Linked DNA regions of Homo sapiens: region 2 is linked to region 1. Evidence: fine-mapped expression QTL. A gene starts in region 1. The other region holds a variant in brackets. All regions are shown on one strand. Distances are between the middles of the regions. Region 1 holds the start of WFS1 (wolframin ER transmembrane glycoprotein). Region 2 overlaps WFS1 (wolframin ER transmembrane glycoprotein).

The links. PIP is the estimated chance that this variant, and not a neighbour inherited with it, causes the effect.
Region 2: its variant is fine-mapped to the expression of WFS1 in blood mononuclear cells (TOPMed, PIP above 0.99).

What each region holds. Positions count from the first base shown.
Region 1 is chr4:6,266,795-6,271,794 of GRCh38, forward strand. WFS1 (wolframin ER transmembrane glycoprotein) reads left to right here and starts at 3,056. Exons shown (of 8, transcript NM_006005.3): 1 at 3,056-3,220. RefSeq lists a silencer at 3,034-3,143.
Region 2 is chr4:6,291,101-6,296,592 of GRCh38, forward strand. WFS1 (wolframin ER transmembrane glycoprotein) reads left to right here. Exons shown (of 8, transcript NM_006005.3): 5 at 97-267; 6 at 817-897; 7 at 3,941-4,089. Among named protein-coding and RNA genes, the nearest start is that of WFS1, 24 kb to the left of the region's middle. The variant C/T (reference allele first, on the strand shown) is at 3,026.

The sequences.
Region 1 (5,000 bases):
TTTTAATAAGTTCTAGTATTTCTAGCAGTTACTGCTTTAAGTGTGTGGCTACTAGATTTTCTGGCTCATTCAGATTCATGACAATGAAATCTTTGTGGATTGTGCCTGGCACCCTTACATAATACCACTCTTCCCGTGAATGCTTTCCATCATGCGTTCTTCCTTATCAATAGTAATTTGCCATTTTTCAAATGTCTGCTGTGATCTTCTACTTCTCAATATTTTTGGTGTGTTTCTTGTAAATAGCGCTTAACTGGACTTTAGTTTTTGCCCCAATCTTACAGACTTTGGATGGGAAATTCAGCCCATTCACCGTGTTACGAAGGCGGGTAGCCATGGCTTTATTTATTTTATCTCATCTTATGTTTACTATTATTAAGCTTATTGTTCTTGCTATTATTTACTTTCCCCCTTAATTTTGCTTCCTTACTCTCCCTCCACCCCTCCCCCAACTTCTACCTAGTAATTCAGGAGTTCTACTCTGCTTCTTTCCCGTGAGTTGCTACTTTCCAATTCCTGAGAGTCATAATTCAACCAATCTTTCCCTGATAATGTATTAAAAGTAAATGGTAATGAAGCCCCCTCCCCACCACCAATAAGGCTTTCCTTCCCCAGCTGAGAGTCATAATTAAACCAATCTTTCCCTGCTAATGTATTAAAAGTAAATGGTAATGAAGCACCCCTCCCAACCACCAATAAGGCTTTCCTTCCCCACTCACCAAATCAGATCCTTTTACTTCCTCCTTCTCCCCTCAACCAAATGTGATCTTAAAATATTCTGACTTCTCTGTGATAAGATTCTATTTTTTTTTTTAGTTCCAGGCTAATACAACTTTCTCTTGAAGCATGTAGCTTATGTTTTAAGAATCCTTATGTGGCACTGCTAGTACAAAATCACAGGCACATGTGGATTATCCATACTGTATATTTTGCAAGGGTCATTGCTTAACACCACTTCCTGTTCTGAGCGTTTGCTCTATCTTGAAATCTCTACTGTGATTGAACTGTCTCGGTGACGGGGGAACTCTGAATATCTTCCTCTGAAAGGGGACATCACTGAGGTCCTTTCTCTGTCTTGCCACAGTGGATATTTTCTCTCTTTTGTCCACATAGATGAATCCTGTAGTAGCCATGGTAAGGATCCTTGATCCTATCATCAGAGTCCCTGGACATTGCTCCAAAGTCCCCTAGGAACCACTTCAACTTTTCTCCCCTTAGATGTGACCTGTTCTTTCTGGAACTCTGCAAGACCGTCTCTTTATCCTTGGCATCTGGGATTTCCAGGGACACGTTCTCCTGGCACTTTGCTCACCTCTGTTTCCCCTCCAGCTCTTCCTGGAGTACCTGTCCTTTGTGCAATACACCTCCTGGAACTGTCTTTCCAGTCTCTGCTTTTTGTCCTGATGATTTTCATGTGCTTTTCCTCTACATCATGAAGCATTTACTCCACATTATCTTCCAGTTTGCTCATTTGTCCTCACCTCCACTCTTCTCTTTCTGAATTTGCCTGTTGCTTTTTCAGTCTCTTAGCTCCGTGGAGTATGTTCAGTGTTGCTGTGTTCTGATAGAGGCTCCTTAAGCCATCTTGTAGATTTTTTGTTGCACTTCCTCTCTTCCCTTAGACCTCCACAGGAGGAACTTTTCAATCTGTCCTCTTCTCTCTGCTTAATGAGCCCCTGCAAAGGGTTTGGGAAGTGCTTCAGCCTCTCTGTGATTGTGTGTTCACATTAATATTTATTATTTTCTTAAATGTGCATAAATCTCACAATGTGAACAGTGATCATCTTTGAGTGATTTTTTTTCTCCTTTCTACTTTTAGTAATTCTCCAAATTTTCTACAGTTAGTGTGTGATAAGGTGGAAAGACATCTTCAAGACTTTGGGCAAATAACTATGTCTGAGCCTCAATTTTCACATCAATAAAAAATGGGCTCAGTGCCACCTCCCTCCTTGGGTCACTAGGGGGGCCCTTGAAAGCTGTGAAAGCCCCTAAGCCAACCTGGACAGAGCAGGCGAGGCTGACGGCAGGTGTTCTTCCTTCCTCTGTGAGCCTCACAGGGTCACACGTGAACATTGGGGATCGGGGGTGGGCAGTGGGGGCAGCTGGAGAATCAAATGAGGTGACTGACATGAACTACGCCGCTTTGACAAAAGTCCTCCGAAGTAGTGTGTTCAGAACTCATCTCCAAAGCCATCTGGAATATTTGCTCCCAACATGTTGGTAAGCATTATCTCTGACAGTCACTCCGAGCCCCAGTTTCTGCTGTGATAACTAGGACAGGTAGCTCAGGTTGGTTGTGGGGACCAGAGACAGAGCAGGCAGGGTCTCACGTTCCCCAGGGCCTCTCAAGGATAGACCCTCGCCCTCATCTCCAAACCACGCCTCCCAGACAGGAACCAAACTCCCAGAGTCTCCAAACTGCCTGAGCCTTGCCCACTCCCTGGGCTAACACACACTTTAAAGGAATCCCACAGTCACCGTGTGAAAAGCTTGCTACACTGCATTTGATTCTGGGCACTGAAAGCAGTACTTGGCTGCAGACACTCGTTTCAAACAGGCCCCATTTTTCCATCTCTGCTGCTGTTATTAGGGGAGCCCTTAGACTCTCTTGCAGCGCCGGAATAGGCGCTCAAGACGTGTGTTAATATTGCAACAGCAAATATAATGAATCTGCAGTTGGGGACGCTGAGGCCGGAGTGGTGGATGAAAGGTGGCCGGAGCCTTTTCCACGGGTCCAAACCACCTGTTACAGGAGAAGGCGAGCGGCCTCGCTAAGCAACTGGACGTTCCGCGGGCGGGGCGGGGGCGGGGCCGGGGCCCGAGTCCGCTCGGAAACTTTCGCTGTGGGCGAGCCGGACCCGCCTTCTGGCCCCTCGGGCCCAACCACGCAGGGGGAGTGCCGGGCCGCAGCTAGGCGAGGCGCACCGTGATTGGCGGAGATGTGGAGTGATTGGCGGCTACACCGGCCACTCAGCAGGCCGAGCTGGCGCCGCATCCGGGGGGCCGCGTCTGGAGTGGAGGGAGGCCGAAGGCCCCGCCCCTGCCCCGCCCCCTCGTGCAGAAGGCCGCGCTAGCCGGCTCTTCAGCAGCGAGTGCAGATTGCTCCCCCGCGGCCGCAGATCTCCCGTTTGCGCCGCGTTCAGCTGCTCCCGAACAACTTTTCTGCCGGCCCAGAGGCCCCAGGGCGTCGCAGCGCCGCGTGCGGCCCACTCACGGGCCGGTGAGTACTTCGGCGCTGGGGCAGTGGCGCGGTGGCTGTGGGCAGCGCGCAGGAGGCGGGCAAGAGCCCTGAGGCACTGTCCTCTTCGGGCCTCAGTTTCCCCTTCCGAGCTGATGGGTGGCTGGCCCCAAAGTCCCGACAAGGTCCCCGAAGTTGGAGGGCCGGGGGTCCCGCCCGCTCTGCAACGCGCAAGGCGACCCCTGTTCCGGGCCCGAACGGGTCACCCGGGGGGCGCGCCCCGGTCCCCCGCGCGCTGTCGCCTGGAGCCCCGCCGCGGGCGGGACAGCAGGCCCGAGAGGCGGAGCGGCCGGCGGGCAGGCCCCCTCCCCGCGCCCCGCGCCATCCCCCCCGAGTTGCCCCGTCATGCCCCTCCCCCGCGGTCCCGGGACCCACGGCCGCCCTCGGTGCCCGCCCGGCCGTTGGAACGCGCCTGGGCCCCCGGGAGGTGTTGTGGGGGGGAAGGGGGGTTCAGTCCCCCAGGGGGACCCGGCCCGCCCGAGGGGCAGCTTAGGGGTCATTCTGAATCCCCACAGCCCACTTAGGAGCGCTGTGGCAGTTCCTCTCTCTCTCGGGGCCCCTCAGTAGAGAGTTGAGGGGTTTCAGTGGCAGCACCTGGACCCTGCCTCGTATGAACTCCACCCTCTGGATCATTAGCTTTTTGTTTGATCAACGAAAACTTTCTGGAGAATCCTACCCAGCCCTTTTGGATGTGATGGCGCCCTGGCCTCTCACCCACTTAGCAGATGATGTTATGAATTCCAAGGAAGTCGCATTTGTGCAACCCCCCACCACCCAGATTTAACCCTCTCAGTAGCCTTAGGCGGAGAAGTTATAGTCCCCGTTTGACACCCCAGGAAGCTGAGGCTCAGCAGGGTTTGGTGCCAGCCCAGGACCACGAAGCTGATGGGGCAGAGCCTGGTGTGAGGCCTCTGCCCTATCTCTCCAGAAGCAGCCCCGTCTCTCCTCACCTTGGACAGTGACCCCTGGCATTTGGCCCAGGGCTTTGCAGTTTGTAAAGGGCTTTCTCTTATGCCAGCATCCATCACTCAAGGAGCTGTGCCCTGGGTACCCCATGTGCTGGCTGCCTGTTCTCTGCAGCAGGAGAGGGAGCCCACGGGAAGCCCAGAGGCCACCTTTGTCACTGTCGCCACCTGTTTACTTCTGTGTCCAAGGGTCTGTGATTCCCATGGGGTCTCCGTTGTATCCAACCAGGGATTTGGAGGGAGGCTTCTCCACATTTCAGCCTCTTTTCCCTACCTGCTGGTTTGTCCTCCCTTCGCAGACACAGGAAAAGTTGGCTGGGAGACCCCATCTCACCTTCTTTCCCAGGATGGAAGAGCATGGAGGGCGTCTCTGACTTAGGCCTCCCCTGCCCATCCCGGACCAGTGCTGGACAGGCTTCTGGGGCTGGTCACAGAGGGGACCTCAGCTCAGTCTCAACCCCCAGAGATGTCTGCACTGCCAGACAGACCCGAAACACCCATCCTTGACGGTGGCAATAAGAATCATAATAGGTCGGGAGCTTTATGCCTACACGGCTCCCCTCCCCTCCCACTTCCCTACTTCCGGAAGTGGTACCACCACAGCCAGCCAGCCCCAGCCACAAACCAGACCACCCCCTGTGCCCTTCATTCCTCACTCCCAGTTGGGTCTCTCCTGGCTCCTGAGCCTCACTCGGATGCCTGCCCTGGTTCAGGACCCTCGCCTCTCCCTGGACGACCCCCAGGCTCCTCCCTGGTCCCGATCCGGGCCTGGCTGCACGCAGCCCTGCTGGTTCTTC
Region 2 (5,492 bases), 25 kb after region 1:
CGCTCGAAAGCCTTCCAGGCAGAGTTGGCAGGGTCAGAGTGGCACCGAAAGCCTAGGCAGGGCACACAAGGCCTTTGACCACATCCTATCCCTCAGGCATCACGTCCGAGAACGAACGGGAGGTGAGGCAGCTCTCCTCCGAGACCGACCTGGAGAGGGCCGTGCGCAAGGCAGCCCTGGTCATGTACTGGAAGCTCAACCCCAAGAAGAAGAAGCAGGTGGCCGTGGCGGAGCTGCTGGAGAATGTCGGCCAGGTCAACGAGCACGGTGCGAGGATTCACCCTGGGCACCAGCCTTCCCTGGGCGCCAGCCTTCCCACAGGAGCCAGGACCTTCCCATAGGGGCTGGGACCTTCCCTCAGGGGCTGGGTCTTCCCACAGGAGCCGGGACCTTCCCTGTGAGGACAGGGCCCTTCCTTGTGGGGACCAGGGGACCAGAACCTTCCTGTAGAGACCGTGCCCTAGTGGTGAGGTGTGTGGGTGGCATTTTGACAGCATCTGCCCTGGCTCAAGTGCTCACTCATTGAATAAACCAGAGGGTATTCTGCCCAGTGCTCTGTGACCACGTCTACCAATGGGACGGACTGTGTCCATCACCAAGTGGGAGCACGCTACGTGGTGCTGAGTCCACCCCAGCTACTGGAGGTACAGAGGTGTGGCCCCTGCTCTGCCTGCCCTGGGGGCCCTATGATCCCCAGAACGTAGGATGCCCCTGGAACTGGCGTGCCCTAGGAACAGTGCGCCAGTTTCTGGTGGGCTGCAGGGCACGAGGAGATAGTCAACTTGTCTGACTGTTAATCCACCCTGTCCCCTGCAGATGGAGGGGCGCAGCCAGGCCCCGTGCCCAAGTCCCTGCAGAAGCAGAGGCGCATGCTGGAGCGCCTGGTCAGCAGCGAGTGTGAGTGCAGCCCCTGCCCCGTCTCACCCATGCCTCCCAGCCTGCACCTGCAGGGCGACCTCTCCTTCCTGTGCGACTCCATCCTGGCCTGCCCTATCTCACCCGTGCCTCCCAGCCTGCGCCTGCAGGGCGACCTCTCCTTCCTGTGCGACCCCATCCTGGCCCTGCTAGGATCTCAGGCGGTCCGTTTGGGGCTCAGTGTTCTGGACGCTGGGAGTAGACCCTGCCCACCTGGAGCGCACGCACTGGAGGGAAGGCAGACCCAGGACAGAAACCATGATGTGCCAGTCCCTCTTGGACAAGGAAATACTGGGGGTGGGGACTGGCGGGGGGGTCCTGAGTGGGGAAGGATGAGGAGGGCATTAGGGGAAGGGGCTCCGGGCAGAGGGAACAGCATGAGCAAAGGCCCAGGAGACCCAGCAGGGTGTGGAAGGGGCTCTGCCCCAGCGTAGGCCCTTTGTAGGTAGGCAGGGAACAGAGTGGGCAGAGCCTAGGTTGGGGGATAGAGTCTCTGGGGCACACTGAGCTGGGGGTGCCTCTGGGATGTTTGTGGTCAAAGACTGAGAAGAGACGTCACATCCTCCACGTGCAGCTGGCCAGCCTCACTGTCTTCCATCCACGTGGGGTAGACTCTGCAGTCTGAGGCACTGGGAGCTCCTGTCCTGGAGAAGATAGACAGGCAGGAGGCTTGGGGGCTCAGTATCAATGGGGGGATGGGCCAAGACCCAGGTCTGCCACAGACTCTTCTTGTGACATGGGCAGGTCTCATTTTTCTTTCTGGGTGTCAGTTTCCCCTTCTGAACAGTGAGATGATCAGACAAGGGGACTGAAGGACCTCGCCCATCCTAGAAGCCTCTGTGGCATGTAGGGCAGAGTACAGGTGGGAGCACAGATCCCACCTTCCCACTGGGCCCGTGAGGAAACCGTCCATAGGGTGTGGTCAGAGCCCTCGCCTCTGCGTGGGCGGACATGGGTGCTTGCGCTGCTGTTTTCCTGCTCCATTTGGGGGAGACAAAGAAACACCTCACATGGAAGTGGGAAGAAATCTGTGACTCTAGGAAGCCCGAGGACCAGAGAGGCTGTGACAGTGTCCTGCCACCGAGGTGGCATGGTGCCTGCTGTCCTGAAGTGAGGTGCCTCTGGGCAGGAGCAGCCCAGCCTGGGTCTCCATCCTGGGGGGCACTGCAGGCAGAGTCTGGACCCCAACCTCACTTCCCAGTCCCACAGGGGTTTGTGATGAGCCGGGCACACCTGCTGCTGGGCCCTGTCGCTGTTGCTGGGGGCGAGTTAGGAGTCAGCGCTGCCAGCCTGTGGTCCCCTCCGCCAGGCCCTCAGGGACAGGGCCCCAGCACCCCCATTGTTTCCCCTCTATCAGAACGTTCCCATCAGGCATCATCTGTTTCTCTGCCAGCTTTTCCAACAGAACTCCCAGAAAGGGGCGTCTGTCATCCCCTTCTCTCGTCCTCCGTCCTTTGCTCTCAGGCCTCTGCCATGTTATTCCACCAAAGCGGCTCGTCTAGGCCATCAGTGACCCCCCTTGCTCAGTCACTTCTTGTCCTTGTCTGACTTGATCTGTCAGCAGCGTGGGCAGAGATGACTGCTCTTCTCCTTAGAGCCCTCTCCCCCACCAGGCCCGGGGCCCTTGCTGCCACACTGGCTGCTCCTTCTTGGGGTCCCTAGACTGATGTCCTGTCTCTCAGGACAGGACATCCTGCCCAAGGTATTCATCCCTATGAGGACAGGGGCCTTCCTTGTGGGGACCAGGGTCTTCCCGTAGGGACTGTGCTCTGGTAGGGAGATGTGTGGGTGGCATTGGTGACCACTCTCGTGTGTCAGACGCCGTCCTGAACCCGCAAGCCCCCAGCCCGCCCAGGCTGCATCCAGCCCGTGCTCCTTCCACATCTCCTGTACCTGGCTGTCCCATGGTCACCTCACAGCTCAGTCTACAGTGAGCTACTGAGGCCTGTGCTACCTGCCACTTGTGTGGGCCCCCCCAAGGCTGCCTCATCTCTTTGCTGCAGCTACACCTGGGTGCTGCCCCGACTCCTCTCCTCTTGCACACACAGCTGATCCATTAGGAGGTCTGTCAGCGCCCACTATCACGGCTGCCATCTTGGATGCAGCCTGC[C/T]TCCTCCCTAGGGTTTCTGCAGCACCCTGGCTTGTCTCCCTCTGCCCTGCCCCAGCATGGTCCTTTCTTTCCCATCCTTCCCCTGGAGGCCCTCCTGGTCACCATCTCACCACGGCAACTGGGGTCCTTCAGGGGCCTCATTCCCTCCTAGGGGATCATGTTGGATAGAGGGGTCAGTGGGCACGTAGCTCTCGCGGATCACGTTGGATGGAGGGATCAGTGGGCACGTAGCAGGCTCTTGGTGGAAGATGTTGGATGGAGGGGTAAGTCGGCCCATGGCAGGACGCATGTTGAATGGACGGGTTAGCAGGCATGTAGTAGGCCCATGGCAGACACTTGTTGGATGGAGGTGTCAGCAGGCACATAGTAGGTGTGTGGCAGATCATGTTGGATGGAGCGGTTTAGCAGGTGCACAGTAGGCCCTGGGTGGATCACGTTGAATGGAGGGGTTGGGGGCGCAGATCATGTTCGATGGAGCGGTTGGCAGGGTACTGCCCTACAGGGCGGCTTGTCACCCGTGCTGTGAGAAGCCCCACGCTGGCTGAAGAGGAGGGTGTCAGCATGCACTGGAGGTGCATGTTGTAAGGCTTGGCAGGTGAACTGGGTGAAAGGTGTGGGTGAGTGGCCCCAGGCATAAGGAGCTAGGCAGAGAGGGACACTTGGGGTGGGGGACAGCACACCCAGGGGCCGGGGGCCAGGAGTGGAGGCTGGCACTTGGCAAACCTGCCCCCTTCCTCCTCACCCAGCCTGGTCCTCAACCCTCAGGCCGCCCAGGGAAGGGTTTCCTCCACCTGAACCCACTCAGCTCCTTTCTTAGCTTGGCCCCACGCCACCGTCCCCAGCCCATTGCTCTGTGTGAGGGTGGCAGTGGGGCTGCAGTGTGGGGCGCCCATGCTGTTTTCTCTCATGCTTCAGCCAAGAACTACATCGCGCTGGATGACTTTGTGGAGATCACTAAGAAGTACGCCAAGGGCGTCATCCCCAGCAGCCTGTTCCTGCAGGACGACGAAGATGATGACGAGCTGGCGGGGAAGAGCCCTGAGGACCTGCCACTGCGTCTGAAGGTGAGTGACCAAGACCCCGGTCAGGCCGGAGCCTGCCTCCCAAGGACTCGCGCACCTCAGGCAGGGCACCTTCCAGGAAGCTGCAGGTGGGGAGGTTCGCGCCTAACAAAGAGTGTCTTACAGCCGTGCCGCTGGTACCTTTGGGTCATCATCTATCGTCATAAGGATGTGTCCTCGGGAGAGAGGCCTTTCTTTTCTGCGCCGTCAGGCTCAGAAACCAGGGGCGGTGTTGGGCAGGAGTGCTAGGATGGCAAGCAAGGGGCCCCTGGGTCTTTCTGTGCAGTGTAGGGGGCAGTGGGGCGGGCTGGACGCAGACTTTCATCTAGACTTCATCACTTAGCAGATTTCTCCATGTATGGTCCAGAGTGGAGGCCAGTGCCTTGAAGATGCCTTCCCCGAAAACAAAGTGCCGTGTCCGTCAGGCCAGGGAGGACGTGCAGAGGCGCCTACTGCCCCTGGATCTGCAAGGGCTCAGGGAGCGAGGCCAGTGTGGGAGCGTGGTGGGTGACACTTGTGCAGGGTGCCATTGGGCACACCTGGAGGACATGAGCAGCTTTGGCGGCAGGAGGAAAGCGGGGAGCGGGGAGCGGGAAGCCCAGCAGTGCGGGCCCTACTCCTGGCCTGACAGCTTGTTTTCTTGGCCATGTGGCCCTATGGCCTCTCACAGAGTTGCTCACAGTTCAGCTCGCATGGTTGAATTAGATGTGTGCCTGTCTCACTCTGCAGAGAACACCAGGATTTCCAGAAGCTTGGCCTCCTGACCCAGGATCCCCAAGCTGAGGCCAGCACAGGGGGCCCCAGCAGATGATTGTCACAGAGGCTGCGGGCAGTATCATGCAGGCACCCTGGGGTTCTGTCTTCTGAACTGACTGAGAACCTGGAGGAACTGCCATCATTGTATTCAGATGGGCGCGTGAGTCAGGGCCAGGACCAGGAGATGGTTGGGCCACCAACTGTCAGGCAGGCAGCAGGCTGAAAGGTCACCGTCCTCGAGCCAGGGAGAAGGTCAGAGTAGGCCCGCCCTCCGGTGGGGGGGAAGAGCAGGAACCCAGGTGCTGCAGGAGCAGCTTCAGCCCAAAGAGCAGCAGGCACAGCAGCCCTGCTGCAGGGACTCGGAGCCAGACAGGTCTGAGTGTGAGCCCCCCGAGTGCCCAGAGCTGCGAGTCCTTTAGGGTGGCAGGTGGAAGGCTCTGCTCCTCCCACTTGGGACAGGCTGTATGTCCAGGGTATGACACCGACCGGTCTGCAGAGGTTCTGAGACATGGGCCAGGATGGCCAAGAACTTGAACCAAGGGAGCACATGGTTTTTACTGATGGTCTGCTCAGAGCTGGCCCTAGGCAAGCATATTCACAGATTGGGTGCCATCATCTCCTTACTAATGGGAGATGAGGAAGCTGGGGTG